Regions from separate parts of the Homo sapiens genome. Here region 2 is linked to region 1. A link means that fine-mapping ties the variant in region 1 to the expression of a gene that starts in the linked region. Tissue or cell type: whole blood. Region 1 holds a variant in brackets; the other region holds the start of a gene. All regions are shown on one strand. Distances are between the middles of the regions.

What was found. PIP is the estimated chance that this variant, and not a neighbour inherited with it, causes the effect.
Region 2: HECW2 starts here. The variant in region 1 is fine-mapped to the expression of HECW2 in whole blood (INTERVAL, PIP above 0.99).

The regions. Positions count from the first base shown.
Region 1 is chr2:196,239,754-196,247,860 of GRCh38, reverse strand. HECW2 (HECT, C2 and WW domain containing E3 ubiquitin protein ligase 2) reads left to right here. Exons shown (of 29, transcript NM_001348768.2): 20 at 5,657-5,777; 21 at 7,299-7,412. Among named protein-coding and RNA genes, the nearest start is that of HECW2-AS1, 16 kb to the left of the region's middle. RefSeq lists an enhancer at 6,603-6,652. The variant T/C (reference allele first, on the strand shown) is at 3,087.
Region 2 is chr2:196,588,887-196,596,993 of GRCh38, reverse strand. HECW2 (HECT, C2 and WW domain containing E3 ubiquitin protein ligase 2) reads left to right here and starts at 3,440. Exons shown (of 29, transcript NM_001348768.2): 1 at 3,440-3,486. RefSeq lists silencers at 3,482-3,751, 3,832-4,211.

The DNA of each region.
Region 1 (8,107 bases):
TCCAGCCCCTGTCCAATACGGAGAACCAGTGCTAGTCATCAGAACAGTCCAGGTTCTGGGTCACACACCCAGAATCAAAAAAGACTGAGACTGCCCGGGAGTTGGATGCCAAGCTATTTCTAGTGTCTTCTGAAATATTTTGTCAGATAGAATTCTTTAGTTTGTATATGATTATGCAATTTTGTAACAGTATATGAAAATAGGGTAACACAATATAGAAGTTCTTTAGACCTGCCTAGCAATGACAAAGCAAAAACTCCCTAGTGTCTGTTACTGAAATTTTTTCCTGCACAGTATTAGCAAAATGCTGACTATCCATGAAGTCAGCCCTTCATTTGATGTAACATTGATCTTTTGTACCTGATTTTCTTTAAGACTGTAAAGACCATAAAATTCCTCTGTCTACAAAGTATTATGACCTAGAACTTCACTTGTAGTTCTCACACAATTTTATTAGCGCAATCTTCCAAGAACATTTTGTATTTCCAAAGTGGAAGTAACATCATTCCTGCTCTGGAATTTCTTGGCAATTATACCTCACTTGTATTAAGAATTTGACAAAGGCCAACAGCATAATTTACTGTAATTTTATTTATTTATTTATTTATTTTGAGACAGAGCCTCACTCTGTTGCCAGGCTGGAGTGCAGTGGTGCGATGTCGGCTCGCTGCAACCTCCGCCTCCTGGGTTCAAGTGATTCTCCTGCCTCAGCCCCCCAAGTAGCTGGGACTACAAGCACACCCAGCTAATTTTTGTGTTTTTAGTAGAGACGGGGTTTCACCATGTTGGCCAGGATGGTCTCGATCTCCTGACCTCATGATCCACCGACCTCAGCCTCCCAAAGTGATGGGATTACAGGCGTGAGCCACCGTACCCAGCCAATTTACTATAATTTTAAAATGAAATAATGTGTAAATGACTTCTTTCATGATGGAACTATGAGCAAAAGAATTTTTGCATTTAACAATTGCTGTCTCAGAGTTTTTATAATTAAATCCCTTTACCTAGAGTATAAACAGAATCAGAGCTAATTTTTATTGTGTCTGTATTGATATTGATGGAATGCATTATGGCATTTCCCACGTCCTTTTAAGCATCTCAAATTATATAGGAGTAGTTAGTGTCTGTGCTGTTTTTTAAAGTAATCAGCTCTTAAAAAAACATGTTTCTTGGCAGGGCACAGTGGCTCATGCCTGTAATCCCACCACTTTGGGAGGCTGAGGGGGGTGGATCACAAGGTCAGGAGATCGAGATCATCCTGGCTAACATGGTGAAACCCCGTCTCTACTAAAAAAATACAAAAAAATAATTAGCCGGGCGTGGTGGCAGACGCCTGTAGTCCAAGCTACTCAGGAGGCTGAGGCAGGAGAATGGCATGAACCCGGGAGGTGGAGCTTGCAGTGCCCGAGATCGTGCCACTGCACTCCAGCCTGGGCGACAGAGTGAGACTCCGTCTAAAGAAAAAAAAAAAGTTTCTTTTGTGTCTTAAAAGATTTTCGTTCAGTTCCTTGTTCTTCATTTTTCTCTCTCTTATCAATGATTTTGCTCTTGAAAGTTGATTCATTACAGCTGCGTTCTGCCCTGTCTGGGTTTTCTAGTCTGCAGTTTCTCAGACTGGAGCACTGACACTGATTGTGCCACCCTTGAGTGGACTTGAACTGCACGGTCCTATCCCTCATTCATCTAGGAGAGCAGCCTTGTGTTCATGGAGATAATGTTCCTTCGTGTTGCAAATTATGCCTTTCGGTACACAGGAAACATTTGCCCTGTGTTAGTCCCTGGATGCTGCCCATGTGTTTCACTGGTGATGTTTGACCTTCTTATAAGGGAATAGTGGTTCTCAGCCATAGCTACACATTACACATTGGAATCATCTGGACAGTTGTATTTAACACTCATGCCTGGGTCCCACCCCACATTCTGGGTCTTTACACATTTTGTTGTAATGCATCTTGGGTGTGGCCTGAACATTGGAATTTTTAAAAGCTTCCTAAGTGATTCTAATGTGCAGTCAAGATTGAGAACCCCTGCCTAGGAGTCTCTTCTGCTTCCCAGATCTTTAAAGTCAAGTTTATTCACTTGCTTTATGACATAACTCAGCTCTTTGCCCAGCTATACAAACAGATCTCCAGACAGATTATTGGTCAATAGCCAGTTTTGTACAAATTCATTAGTAAAATCTCAATTCATTTCCCTGTCTTTAGTATTCACCTCTATGCAGATAACAACAGCTAACACTTACGTGGGATCTCTTATGCAACAGTCACTGCATAAAGTGCCATAAACACACTAACTCAGCTCATCCACACGTGTGGCCCTGAGCTCTCACCCCAATTCCAGCCCTGTATTTTTCAGTCTCTAGGGCATTTTGTTAGCTGTCATATCCAAGTCAATATGTATAAAGTTTCACATGCCCTTGTCCACCTGCATCACTTCCCACACTCTTCATAGCATCAGGTAGATAGACTTGGCTCAAATCCCAAATCTACTGTCACTGGAATATGACTTGGACAGGAAACTGCACCTTCATTTTCTTTAGTTGCAAAGTGGTGTGTGATGGTCCTAGTAATACCCGCTTCGTAGACTTGTGAGGATTTCTCAAGATCCCCTGTGTAACGTGCATCATCTGTAATGTACAGCAGGCGCTTAACAAGTAAGACCTGTTGTTATTGTTTAAATACACTTTATATTATCATCATGCTTCCCATTCTTCTTTCTTGCTTATCTATTCTTTTCCCAGTGCATATTTCACATTGTAGATGTTTCTCTGAGTCACTCACTCCAGTCTAGTCCTTATCCCCTCAGGCTTCAATTACTGCAACAACTCCTAACTGGGGCTCTTTCCTCTTGCCCACCCTTAATTTACTCAACACACTCTGAAAATAATTTCTTAAATAAAACACCATTTGTATGTTATTCTTCTGCTCAAGAACCTATAAAGGCACTGTTCACTGCATCATGCCCAAACTCCTCTGCTAGGTTTTAAAAATTCTTGTCATAATTTGGCTCCAACCCTTCTGATCAATTTCATTTCCCATTTACTCCCAGCACTCCTCCTCCACTCTAGGCTAGCTTGGTTCTCTTGG[T/C]GTCTTCTGAACACACATGCAGTGCTCATGCCAGCTGTTGCTGCTGTGTTCCACTTTAGGATATAAATTCTCCTTCTTTTGCAAGGTGTGGTTCCAATTAAGCTTCCTCCCTAAGGCCTTTTCCACTTTGATCTCTACTTATACTCATTTCTTTTTTATAACATTACTATTACTTTTGTGTAACACTGATCTTAACAAATGCTTGCGGGGCTTGGGGGGCAGGCAGCCATGTCATTGAGTGGCTGCCGCAAAGTGGTGAGCTCATGCCTCGTCTAACAGAGTAGCTGCAGCTGCCCGCTGGATCCCCAAGGAAATGCAAGCCAGTCATTGCAAGATTTCCCAAATAATTTTCAAGAGAAAAATCTGGAATTTTTAAATTTGAAATTTAATTTGTAAATGTTGGCAATTAATTTAAAATATTCAAAAAAGATTATGGGGCAAGCAACTGGGATCTATAGGACTAGGTATAGCCCCAGGGGTATAGCTTTGTTTCCTCTGCTTTCTAGTCTGTATACCTAGTTCAGGACTTAATTATTCTCTAATTGTTTGATGTTTTATTTCTGTTTCCCCAACCCACTCCAGCAACCCCACCTTACTCATTTTGGACATCCATTGGTGAACCTAACATAGTATTCCCAATGAATAACAACTATTTAGTTCACTCATTTGTTAGAGACATTTTTAATGAACTTACATGGTATGTAATGAACAAGACTTCCCAGCTTTTGTTTTCTGGTTTCTTTCATTGGTTGGGAAATATTTAGTGGAAATATCCAGTGTTTTTGTCATGGCTCTGTGTCTGATTTCCATATTCATCATCAGTTTTCTATCCCAACCTGCTGCTTGTGTTACCCAGTGACACAAAACCAGATTTTTCTATGGAAAGAGGAACAATTGGCTGGGCATGGTGGCTCACGCCTGTAATCCCAGCACTTTGGAAGGCCGAGGTGGGCGGATCACCTGAGGTCAGGAGTTCGAGACCAGCCTGACCAACATGGAGAAACCACGTCCCTGCTAAAAATACAAAATTAGCTGGGCGTGGAGGTGCAAGACTGTAGTCCCAGCTACTCGGGAGGCTGAGGCAGGAGAATCGCTTGAACTCAGGAGACAGAGGTTGGGTTAGCCGAGATCACACCATTGCACTCCAGCCTGGGCAACAAGAGCAAAACTCCGTGTCAAAAAAAAGGAAAGAGAAACAATGTTACTTTTACATATTATTAGTGATAATTACCATTGAATAACGTATAAAATATGCTTATATAATCTAGATATTCTCAGTACTTGGCACATGTTAAGAATGCAATAAATGGTCTGGCGCAGTGGCTCACACCAGTAATCCCAGCACTTTGGGAGGCCAAGGCAGGTGGATTACCTGAGGTCGGGAGTTCAAGACCAGCCTGACCAACATGGAGAAACCATGACCCTACTAAAAATACAAAATTAGTCGGGCGTGGTGGCACATGCCTGCAATCCCAGCTACTCAGTAGGCTGAGGCAGGACAATCACTTGAACCCGGGAGATGGAGGTTGCGGTGAGCTGAGATTGTGCCATTGCACTCCAGCCTGGGCAACAAGAGCGAAACTCCGTCTCAAAAAAAAAAAAAGAATCCAATAAATATTAATATTATTTATTCTTTGTGCAAGTGCGCACTTTGTGCAAGTGAGACAGGTGCCTTTTGCAATTATGTGTTATATTAAGATTTTACCCTGCAATATGAGATTTATGTAATTATGTGTCTAAAATCATTCTTGGTGATAGTGCATATCTAAAAGAAGTTTTGTAGGCCAGGTGCGGTGGCTCACACCTGTAATCCCAGCAATTTGGGAGGCTGAGGTGGGTGGATCACCTGAGGTCAGGAGTTCCAGACCAGCCTGGCCAACATGGCAAAACCCTGTCTCTACTAAAAATACAAAAATTAGCTGGGCATGGTGGCAGGCACCTGTAATCTCAGCTATTTGGGAGGCTGAAACAGGAGAATCACTTGAACCCAGGAGGCGGAGGGTGCAGTGAGCCAAGATTGCACCACTGCACTCCAGCCTGCTGGGTGACAGAGTAAGACTCCGTCTCAAAAAAAAAAAAAAAAAAAAAAAAAGTTTCATGAGGAGTTTTTTGGTGAGGAATTTAGAGTGAATGATTAAAACCTCACTCTTGGTGCCACTTACTTATATACCATGTACTTTCCATTGCAACTTCCTGTCTAATTGCCATGATATCATTTCAGCAGCAAGCAAAGACATTTCATCCTAACAGTTACTACTAGACATGAGTAACTCTGTTTGACTCATATTAGTTTCGACTGAAAAGGGGAACATACTTGAGAAACACATGGGCACCATTGTAACTATTCAAACAGAATTTTTATTCTCAACCAAAATGCCACAAAGAGGACGTCACTTAAGACCTTGGTTGAGGTTTGTTATATCCTTCAACTTGCAGAAATCAAAAATGCAGAAGTTAAGACAGTTGCCTCATTTGACTTGTTGATTGTGATAGCTTTTGTCCATGGTGATGTGATGAACATAAGGACGAGGCACAAATCCAGATTGTCCTCTCTTTGTGGTTTGCTGCAGGTACCCAGCGTGCCAATGCCCGGGCTCCAGCCCCTTACAAGCGGGATTTCGAAGCCAAACTGAGGAACTTTTACAGGAAGTTAGAGACTAAAGGATATGGACAAGGCCCAGGGAAGTTAAAGTAAGTCAAAGTGACACAAACCACATAATGTATAGATGGTGAAAGGAGAGGGCACAGTTGGGCCTCTAGGAAATTGATTGTGATTTGGGATGACTAGCCTTCATTTTAGTCGGCATAATTATTTTGGAATTTGTAAATTATAGGATCATCTAAAACATAGTCCTGGAATGAAACATGATTAAGCTTAACATTTTAAAACAAATAGTGAAGACACTGCCACTTTTCATGCAAAAATAAAGGCAAAATAAAAGGCTGATTTATTTTTTTCCTCTGAAAAGTATGTCTTTGTTGGTGCATAGTATATTCATTAGCTATAAAGCTATCCCAATGTCCTCCACTGCAAGTTTCTGTCTCCTGAACTGACCTGAGTGTAGGAATAGTGCTCAGCTCTGTTCAGTTCTGTGAAACAAACTTCACAGCAGAACATGTCATGAATGTTGTTTCGGCCTTTCTTCATCCATCTCCTCCTTTCAAATGGGGAAACTGAAACATCATCATGTTGTTTGGCCTAGAATTGTTTCCATTCCCTACTTACCCTTCTTTCTCTCCTCCCTGCCTTCACCCCTGTCCCACGTCCCCACTGGAGATCAGTCTGCCACTGAGAGAGGACAGAGGAGGGACGGTCTCCACTGGAGCACCCCTGTGACCCTGGGTGCCTGAGAGACGGTCCAGAGACCAGACCAACAGCAGCCCCATGGCTCACTGCCCCACCTGCAGGAAGGCTTGCTTGATTAAAATCCACCTTCATTGCCCTAAAAAATCATCTGCCTGCCCAAACACCATACTTCTCTGAGCTTTACTTTTCTCACACTTAACTTACAAAGGTCTAGGATGATCCAGCTGTCATGCATTCAGCCTCCCTATCATCTCTCTGCCCATTACCATTTACATTAAGAGCAAATTGATATCTATGGAAGGATGACTTTAATTGGCATCATCACAAGTAGATTAACCTGCCACACTCATCATTCATTTGTATCTGTCCCTTAGGGACTGTCAAGATTCACTTAATTTAACAATTAACAATTGGAAACTCCTCTGCTTTGGAGGATATTGAGAATTTTTTTTTTCCTCTTTGTTCTCACAGTCATCTTGCTGGGCACTTAATAATTGAATTCCTTGTCTACATGCATTGAGACTTAAAACATTGCCTCATAGAGTTGTTCTTGCTTTACTAAACAAAATGTATGGGCGGGGGGCGGTGTGTGTGGTGTGTGTGGTGTTGTTTTATGATCATTTTTTTTCTGGGATAAACTGATTTGACCATTTAGATAGGATTCTCCGGTTGTTTACACTGGTCATAGGTAGGGTACTCTACCAATGATTCTCTCATGTAACTTTTGCTAATGCTATTAAGAGTTCAAGACAAATGTGTACTTTATTGCAGACAGCAATGATATTAAGTAACATTCTTCTTACCTAGTTAATTGTGGCAAATGGAAATGTTCTAGAAAGATAAGTAAATTATCTTTAATAGTATAGTAATAATTTGTATTTTCTAAATTGTCTCTTTATGGACAGGTTAATTATCCGAAGAGATCACTTACTAGAAGATGCTTTTAATCAGATTATGGGCTACTCCAGAAAAGACCTGCAGAGAAATAAGCTATATGTCACCTTCGTTGGGGAGGAAGGGTGAGTAGAACAGAGAAGTGGCCTGTGGAACATAGGCTGTGGCCACAAGGCGGATGTTTCTCCACGTCGCTGTGGTTGCCTGAAACAGGAAATCCTTCTGCCAGGAAGTGCTGTTCTCATACACTTAAACCTTTGGGCTTTTTTTTTTTTAAAGGTCTCCTCTGGCTTTTAAATCACTTGACATAGAAATCCTTTAGTAAAAACTTGTAGCTTTAGATCATTTTTGAGAACAGAAGCCTAGTTCAGTTTCTTCTCTCCGGACCTCTCTTTCTCTTAAAGGGAAAAAGTAAGGCTTTACAAGGAAAAAAAACAAGGAATTGCATTTATGCAATTCCTTTGTGATCTGTGATCTTATTTTCTACCCTGCAGGGCTAGGTAGAACGTGCTTCCTCTATTAAATAAGTTCAGTTTCAGAAACATGAATTAGAATCTTGCTGTTCTACCCAGAAGCCTCCACAGAAGTAACTCTTGGGCCTTGGCTCTTATTTCTCTGCCTCCAGTTTTTCTCTTCCCTTGGGAAGGCAGCACACCTACCAACATTACTACCTAACATAAACAAACATGTCCCGCCTTCCATGACTCTTCCATGAGTGTGCTCGTCAAGATAAGGGTTAGGAAATGAAGCGGGGAAGACTCCTACACAGTGTCTGTTGTGCCCAAATAGACATAACTGTTATTACACATCACATTAGAAG
Region 2 (8,107 bases), 350 kb before region 1:
TATGCAGTTATTAATACTTGGTGGTATAATTTCCATCCCTTTACCTTTGTGTCACAACACTGAAGGGCCCAAGTGACTGTCTTTGCACAGTCAAAATAGACATCACTGTCACAACTTTAATGCCCACAGACCACATAAATGTATTCCACTTAACCAATTCAACTTCCCTTTAGCCAGATCCCCACAAATGTCCACAATCACTCCACTTCTTTCGGAACAAGGGGAATTAGGACAACACGGAAGTTAGAATGAAAAGGGACAGCAGTCTTGTCTTAATTCAAGCTGCAATAACAAAGCATCCTAGACTGGGTGGCTTATGAACAACAGAAATTTATTTTTCACAGTTCTGGACGCCAGAAGAATGAGATCAGGGTGCCAGTGTGGTTGTGATGTGGGTGGGAAGGCCCTCTTCCAGTTGCAGACTGCCATCTTTTCTTTGTATCCTCAAGAGGCAGAAAGAGGGTGAGAGAGCTCTCTTGGGTTTCTTTTATAAGGGCATTTATTCCATCACCTCCCAAAGGCCCCACCTCCTAATACCATCACATTAGGGGTTAGGATTTCAACACATGAATTTGGGGGAGCACAAACATTCAGTCCACTGCAAATCGCTTGAGATTAAAATATCTTACTTTGGAAGCTTTTATAAAAATATAAGACCACATGAACATGTCTCTCAGGCTCCTTCTGTGTTGTTGGAAGAGGGCTGGAGTATAAGTTTCTTGGAATCTGCCTTTGGGTTTAGCTTTGGCCATATGCTTTAGAAGGAGCAGTCACAAACCTTGGCACATCTGTAGAAAGGAAGTAACCTAGGATGATGAAGGGTCAGGACACATTGCCATGTGTCCTGCATGACTTATGGGTCATGCAAAGATCTTGGAAAAGAGACAATTCAAGTGGTTCACAAGTTTGTCTTCAGTGCTTGGAGTACTCTCAGGTGGAAGAAATATTTCAACTCAATATAAGGGATCACTTCCTAATGTCAGGCCAGTTTCAATGCAGAATTGACCAGCTTGTAAAGTACTGAGTTCTCTTTAAGGGAATGGCTCCAGGAGAGGATAAGTGAGACCCGGTCAGAGATCTTGTGAAGGAGAGTGGTGGTGATGACGAACGGGGAGTGCAGTGTGAAAGAACCTACCTAATCTTTACACACCTTTGCAAGTTTGAGATTTTTAGGATGACTTTGCTATTAATGTTCTTTGATGCCTTAGTCTCGGTTTTAATGGTCGATATGTAGAAAGTTTTAAAGGTAGTAGGGGCTGCTTTTAAAGTGAGAGAAAAATGTTTTTTAAGACCTAGGGCAGCAATAGTGATTCACTTTGCCTCTATTCATTTTTAGGGTTCTTCTTTCTCCCTCCTTTCCTCCCTTCCTCCCTTCCTCCTCTTTTCTTTTCTTTCTTTTTCTGTTTTTCTTTTCTTTCTTTCTTTTTCCTCCTCCTCCTCCTTCTTCTTCCTCTTCCTCTTCTTTTTTGACAAGGTGACAGGGTCTTGCTCTGTCTTCAAGCTGGAGTGCAGTGGTGCAATCACAGCTCATTGCAGTCTTGAAATCCTGGGCTCAACTGATCTTCCTGCCTCAGCCTCCAGAGTAACTGCGATTACAGGTTCAGGCCACCATGCCTGGCTATTTTTATTTTTATTTCTTTCTTTATTTAATGTATTATACTTTAAGTTCTGGGATATATGTGCAGAACGTGGAGGTTTGTTACATAGGTATACACGTGCCATGGTGGTTTGCTGCACCCATCAACCCATCATCTACATTAGGTATTTCTCCTAATGAGATCCCTCCCCTAGCCCCACAACCCCCGATAGGCCCCTCCTCCCTGATGTGATGTTCTCCTCCCTGTGTTCATGTGTTCTCATTGTTCAGCTCCCACTTATGAGTGAGAAAACGCAGTGTTTGGTTTTCTGTTCCTGTGTTAGTGGGGTCTCACTATGTTGCCCAGATTGGTCTTAAACTCCTGGCTTCAAGAGATCCTCCTGCCTCAGGCATGATTACAGGTGTGAGCCACTGCACCTGGCCCATTTTGACTAGAATGTAACATAGTGGTTAATCAACACAAAGAAGCTAAGGATTGCAGGTGTGGGGTTGCTGGATTTGAGTAAGTTGTGAAGGAGAACATCATGTGGGAACAAACCTCTAGGATCCCTGTTCTTCCAGCAAGAACTGGAATTGGGCCTTTTGTGGGGTGGGGCTCTTTGATTCTGTGGAGGATCCTAACAGTGATGCCTGGGCTGATAGATCCAGGGGACTAAGAAGTCAGGGCTCCTCTGAGACATGTGACAAAACACAGCTGACACTGACTTGAAATAAAAGAGAGAGGATTTATTGGCTTCAAGGGTAGAGTTCACTGCAGACACATCTACCTCCTGAGGTTCCTGAGAGGGTGGGACATCACCCTCTCACCAGCAGCTTTTCTTCCCTCAAAGTTGGCTTCATTGGCATGCACTGTTGGTCCTTGTTACCGTAGGCTTATATCCTTCCAATTTAGTTATCCTAGTTTAAAGAGCTTATTTTTCTGCAGTAATACATCCAAAGCCCTAGGCCGAGTTCCTGGATCAACATGCCCAACCCAGAACCGATCACTGCGGTCCGGAAGATGACTGGCTAGTTCTGGGGGTTGAGGGTGGGAGGTGTCAGTACCCTGGAGCCACAAAGACTCATTGTGGGTGAGGGGGAAGGGCAGTTCCCATAGGAATAATGAACTGCTGTTACCAGAAAAGGCGGAGAAATGGATAATATTGAGCACACACTCAAAAGTCCCAAAGGAATGGCTATCCATTATTTGGGGACTTACTCCATATGGATATAGTTAAATTGTAAAATTGAATAAATCTTCCCTAAATCTGGACAGATGCAAGGGTGGGTGGGGAGGGACACAATATATTTACACTTTAGCATTTTTACTTTTTCTCCTACGTGGGACTGGTTGATGAAGATGCTATAGAAGTAAACAGAAAGCCGAAAGTATTAATACAGTAATTTTAAATTTTAGTGCCCTCTTTAGGCAAAGTATCTGGGAACGCTTTCAATAATCCATTTTTTCATCGTGACCACACCCTGTGTGTGCGACATGAGTATTACCGTCTTGCCCTTGCAGTTGGGGAAACCGAGGCATGACACTCCCCTATTCAGCTTTCTGGTGGGGTTGAGGAACAGTGTTGTCTGCACGACCTCAGAGGGTCTCCTCCACCCTCCGCGACACCTCTAGGAATCCTCCTGTCCTTCGACTTCGCAGAAGGAGAGCAACTCAGGCTCCGCCGCAGCCTCGGGACTCGTCCTCCGCCCAGCCGCACCCGCCCCGTTCTTCCGCACCTTCCTCAGGGAGGTCCCGCTGGCCAAGGTCTGGCTGTCCCTCCTGTCCTCTGCCCCCGCCTCCCTTCCACCGGTCCCCGACGTGCCGCCAGCTCCCAGCCCAGCGTCCCGCAGGGCGGTGCGGGCAGATGCCGCCGAAGCGTCTAGCGGGAAGGGCGCCGGCGCGGCTGGAGGTGAGGAGGCCGGACTCTTCGCTCTCCGCGGACCGGGGCACCGCGGCTGGAGCGGACGCCCGGCACCCGGGCGGGAGGAAGGTGGCGGCAGGGAGCGGCGAGAGGGTGGCGACGCAGGCGGGTCGGCGCCTGGAGAGCGAGCGGCGGGGAGCCGGGCGCTGCGGGGCCGCTCGGGGCCGCGCCGCGCTCGGCCACAAACCTCCCGGAGGCGCAGGACCCCCGGCGCCCTCCCGAGCGCGGGCGGGAGCCATGGCTTCGCGCGTCCCCGCTGCCGCTGCTGACTCGACACAATCGGCGGGTCGCGCGGGGGCCGTGGCGTAACCCGGGGGTGGGTGGCGGCGCGGAGCCGCCTCGAGAGCTCTGGGTGTCGCTGGGAGCTAGGAAGATGCCAGCACAAAGGCGAGCCGAGACCCAGCCCGCTGCGGAGGGCGGCGGGAAGAGCCGCTGAGGGGCGCGCCGAGCGCGCTCTGCCCCTGCGCCGCGTCTCTCCGGGCGCTTCTCGCGGTCTCGGGGTCGGGGACTGCAGCGCAGAGACTCTCGGCTCCGTGGCAGCGGCCGCAGCAGCCGTGAGCTGCATGCAACGCGCGGCGGCGCCCCCGGCCGCCTGCTTTCTCCTCGGCGCGCACGGACCGGCCGCAGGGCGCCGGGGCCGCGGGTCCGGGCGACTTTGGGGGCGCCCTCCCGCCCCGCGGCCGGGTCCCCACCCGCAGCTTGTGGCGACGGGCGCAAAGCCCAGGTGAGCGCGCGGCCCTCGCCGCAGGTAGCGGACGGCGGGAGGTGGCTTTGTTTTTCCTCCCTTGCGCCCCGGCGCGGTCATTCATTTGCCATTTCGGTTTCCGCTGCCCAGGATGTGTTGGATGGTTTGGTTCTCCAGGGAAACTGGGACTTTGGGGTCTATTTGAGCATCAGTTGAGGGAGAGGACGCTTCATTTCCTTTTTGGTTGGGAATGTGCCGTGAACATCCTCTGCTGGAGCTTGGGGCCTGGAGCAAACTGGGGCTGCAGATTTAGACGTAGACGTTTCCGAGGACGCGAGACTGCAGAGGTCTGACTCTCTCATGCCTTGTCTTCACTATTAGCAGCGCTCGGGTGCTTTTCGTCGTTTATTATTATTAATTTAGAGAACATCTTTACAGGCACATTTCTTTTAGAGTTAGAAGTCTTTGGAGTCAGTACAGAGAGCTCACAATTAGAGTTACAAGGGTTCAATCGATATTAAACTTCAGGAAGGAAAACATTTGTGATCATTACAGATAGAGGTGGACAGCATGCAAACTTCGGGGGCCTTTAGCTTTTGGGTTATGATTTCTGCTTTCACTGTCCTAGACTCACGCAAACTGTTTTCGTATATATATACCTTTGTGAAAGTGTGAAACTTGTCTTTTCTGGAGTAGTGTTCTATAGTTTGTCATTTAGAAGAAGAATATTTTAGTGTAATTAGTAGAGCTCTCCATGTGTTTGTCTTATAAATATGATTTTCTTTTTACTATTTCTCCTATTCCCTCGAGGGTTCATTTCTTCTGTTGCTTTGAGAGAGCTTTTTTTCTTTCTCTTCCCAACAGATGGCTGTATGTTCCAAGAGGTTATCTTTAAAATGACACACACATTATCTACAAAGAAAGAAAGATCAGTTATTGACTTTATCTTTGGAGTTATTAAAATAAAAGGCCTAATCTGGATGGGGATATTATTAATGGCGTGAAAATCTGGAGTTTGCTAATCTGTTTGGTCATCAGAAGATTCCTGCGGGGATTGTTTATATAGCGTGGGAGACAGATGGCATCCCTAGCAGACTAGAGAAGCCAGGCATAAAGGGTCATTGTATTCTTCAGAAATTATCCACTTCACTATTAGAGGTGGGGTAGGGTGGGGTGGAGGGTGGCAAAGACATTTTGATCTCTTAAAGGAGACACTGTAACGTTACTATCCAGCAGTCTAACCAGCTTTAATTTTTCTTTTTGTTGAACATTCAAAAAGTCCCAATTGAGCTATTTGTTTTGATTATTTCATTGGCACATTTTGGCTTCGATGTGGTTGTGTGAAGCAGTTTATTAACAAAAATGTCTTTGAACTTAAAAATAATCGTGCTGCTTCTGGGGGAAAATCAGTTGCACCTTTCTTAGCTCTTGTATATAAATGGCCCCTTGGACTCAAACCGTCTTCTGGCTGGAAAGACTTTAGTCTTCATTAGTTTGAATCCAGTTTCCTTCACCATCTCCGTGACAGGTGATTTCCAAATCCCCACCATTTGGCCGCAGACTCTGAGGTTTGGGCACCATGATGATTTCCCAGTCTAAGACATTCGCTTCACCATCGCCTCTATCACGGTATTGGGCAACATTTGGCAATGAATCTTTATGAATGGCTGTGGTGTCGGTAAAGAAATCAAAATCATTCTGAACATTTGAGATAAACCAGCTGGAGCTTTTCTGCGCCTACCACTGTTGTGGATTATCTATGTGTTGTGTAGATTGCAACCAGATCACAAAGCTAGTTTTCCCTCTTTATGAATGTGAAGGAAAATATTCCAGTAAATTAACATTTGCCAGCCACAGGACTAAATTTAATGAAGATTATGAGCAATGTTTGACCCCTCTGAACAGGAGACAAAAAATAAAAGTAAGCACTGGTTCTGTTTCACTTGGGCAATGTGATCTTGGGAGAAAAACCTATATTTTCTTACTCTTTTAAAAGGCTTTTGCAACACTGATTTCAGCCAAAGGCAAAGAAACCAAGGTTGTTACCTGTAGTTGAGGACAGATGCTTTGGCGTTTTCTCCTAGATGAATGTGTTTTGCAGGAGAGGTGGCTTTTGGGATCTTCCCAGTTTTAATATGTGCCTACACATCAATGAAATGATCTTGCATTCAAAATGCTTGTTAAGTCTATATGGTTGGTATCTGTGTAACCTCTAACCAGGTGGCTTTCTCTGTTGTGAAGTGTTCCTTTAAGAGAAACCAGAGGCTTCTCGCCTGGGGCTTGCTGTGGGCCTGGCCTGGATCCACATTCTTGTGCATTGCTGACTACTTTCTTGGGAAAAACTGGAACCAGTTTTGCTTGGTGTGTTGGATAGGGAATGGCAGCATTGGGTGAAAACCTTTCCAGCTCTGTTATCAAAAGCCAGGCCTGGCCTGAAAGAGGGAGGACTATGTTTGAAGTTTGATTGATTTAACAGAGGCAGAGGTTGCTTCATTACACACAGGATGCCTTTTGTATCAGGATATGAATGAGAGATTAGAAAGGTGACGAGATGCCCTGCTTTGCTTGTGACAGTGCCAGTTTACTCCTGTTGGTTTATCTTAATTATCAAAAGCACCCCCTTTCACATGTAAAAGTGTCCTGGTTTGGGTGATAATTATCTGGTCACCCTAGATATTAAGGAATCCTGAATTTTTTTCATCACCCCTCTTCCGACACCAGATTTTGAGTCTTGCCTTATTTCAGTCTTTTATTTATTAAATGCAAAGCTAGAAAATCAGAAAAATTTAAACCTGAAAAATATATAAGAAAAAATGAAATAGGAGGAAGGAAGATAGGAGAATGAGATAATTGCTTGTCATCTATTTACACACATAGTGAATAAAATAGTTTTATTCTTAAGTTACTAAGCATCTGCCGTGGCTGTAAGCCCATATTATTATTGTCTTCAAGCACAATATGAATTAACACCTGTCCATATATCTAGAGCTGACACTAATTGGGACAAATCCTTTGATTTGGGAGAGCAGTTTCTACAAAACCTGTTTGCAGACCTAGTGGTTACCATGGCTCTTAGAGGTAGGAATGCAAGTTTCAAGATCTAGTGTCTGGTCCAGATCTTGGATATTTACTGAGATTCCAGAACACAAGTGTTGTTGTGAAGACTTGATTCCACATTCTCTTAGTTTCCAAGCTCTCAGGGCCATGAGGATAATAGGAGGGCTTTTGTTTTCTGTACTCCCTTGTGTCTCCAGTGTTTGGTTTGGGTCTCAGCTTTTCATACAGAGGGGTCGCAGAGAGGGAGAACTGTTGTGTCTGTTCACCACATGAAAATTCTCTTGGGGGTTTGAGATTGTGCAGGTGACCTGGCAAGGGTTTGGATTCTTTACCCAACTTAGATATATGAAGTTTGTGGCATTTGCTTCTGCAGTAGTTGCTATGCTCCTTTACCAAAGAATTGTGTGTTTGTAACACAGCTCACTTACTATGTTGGCCAGTGGATGTTATAATTAATTATGGCTGTCACCTTTCCCAAACTCACTCCACTGAAGTCCTCAAAAGCTTGGTCAGCATGTCTAAATAAGAAGAAATTTATTTATTTATTTATTTTTTGAGACAGGGTCTCACTCCGTTGCCCAGACTGGAGTGCAGTGGTGCAATCTTGGCTCACCGCATCCTCCGCCTCCTGGGTTTAAGCGATTCTCATGCCTCCGTCTCCCAAGTAGCTGGGATTACAGGCACGCACCACTACCATCAGCAAATTTTTGTGTTTTTAGTAGAGACAGGATTTCACCATGTTGGCCAGGCTGGTCTTGAACTCCTGACAAATGATCCACCCTCCTCGGCCTCCCAAAGTGTTGGGATTACAGGTGTGAGCCACCGTGACCGGCCTATGTATCTTTTTTATAAGTAGGATGACTATGT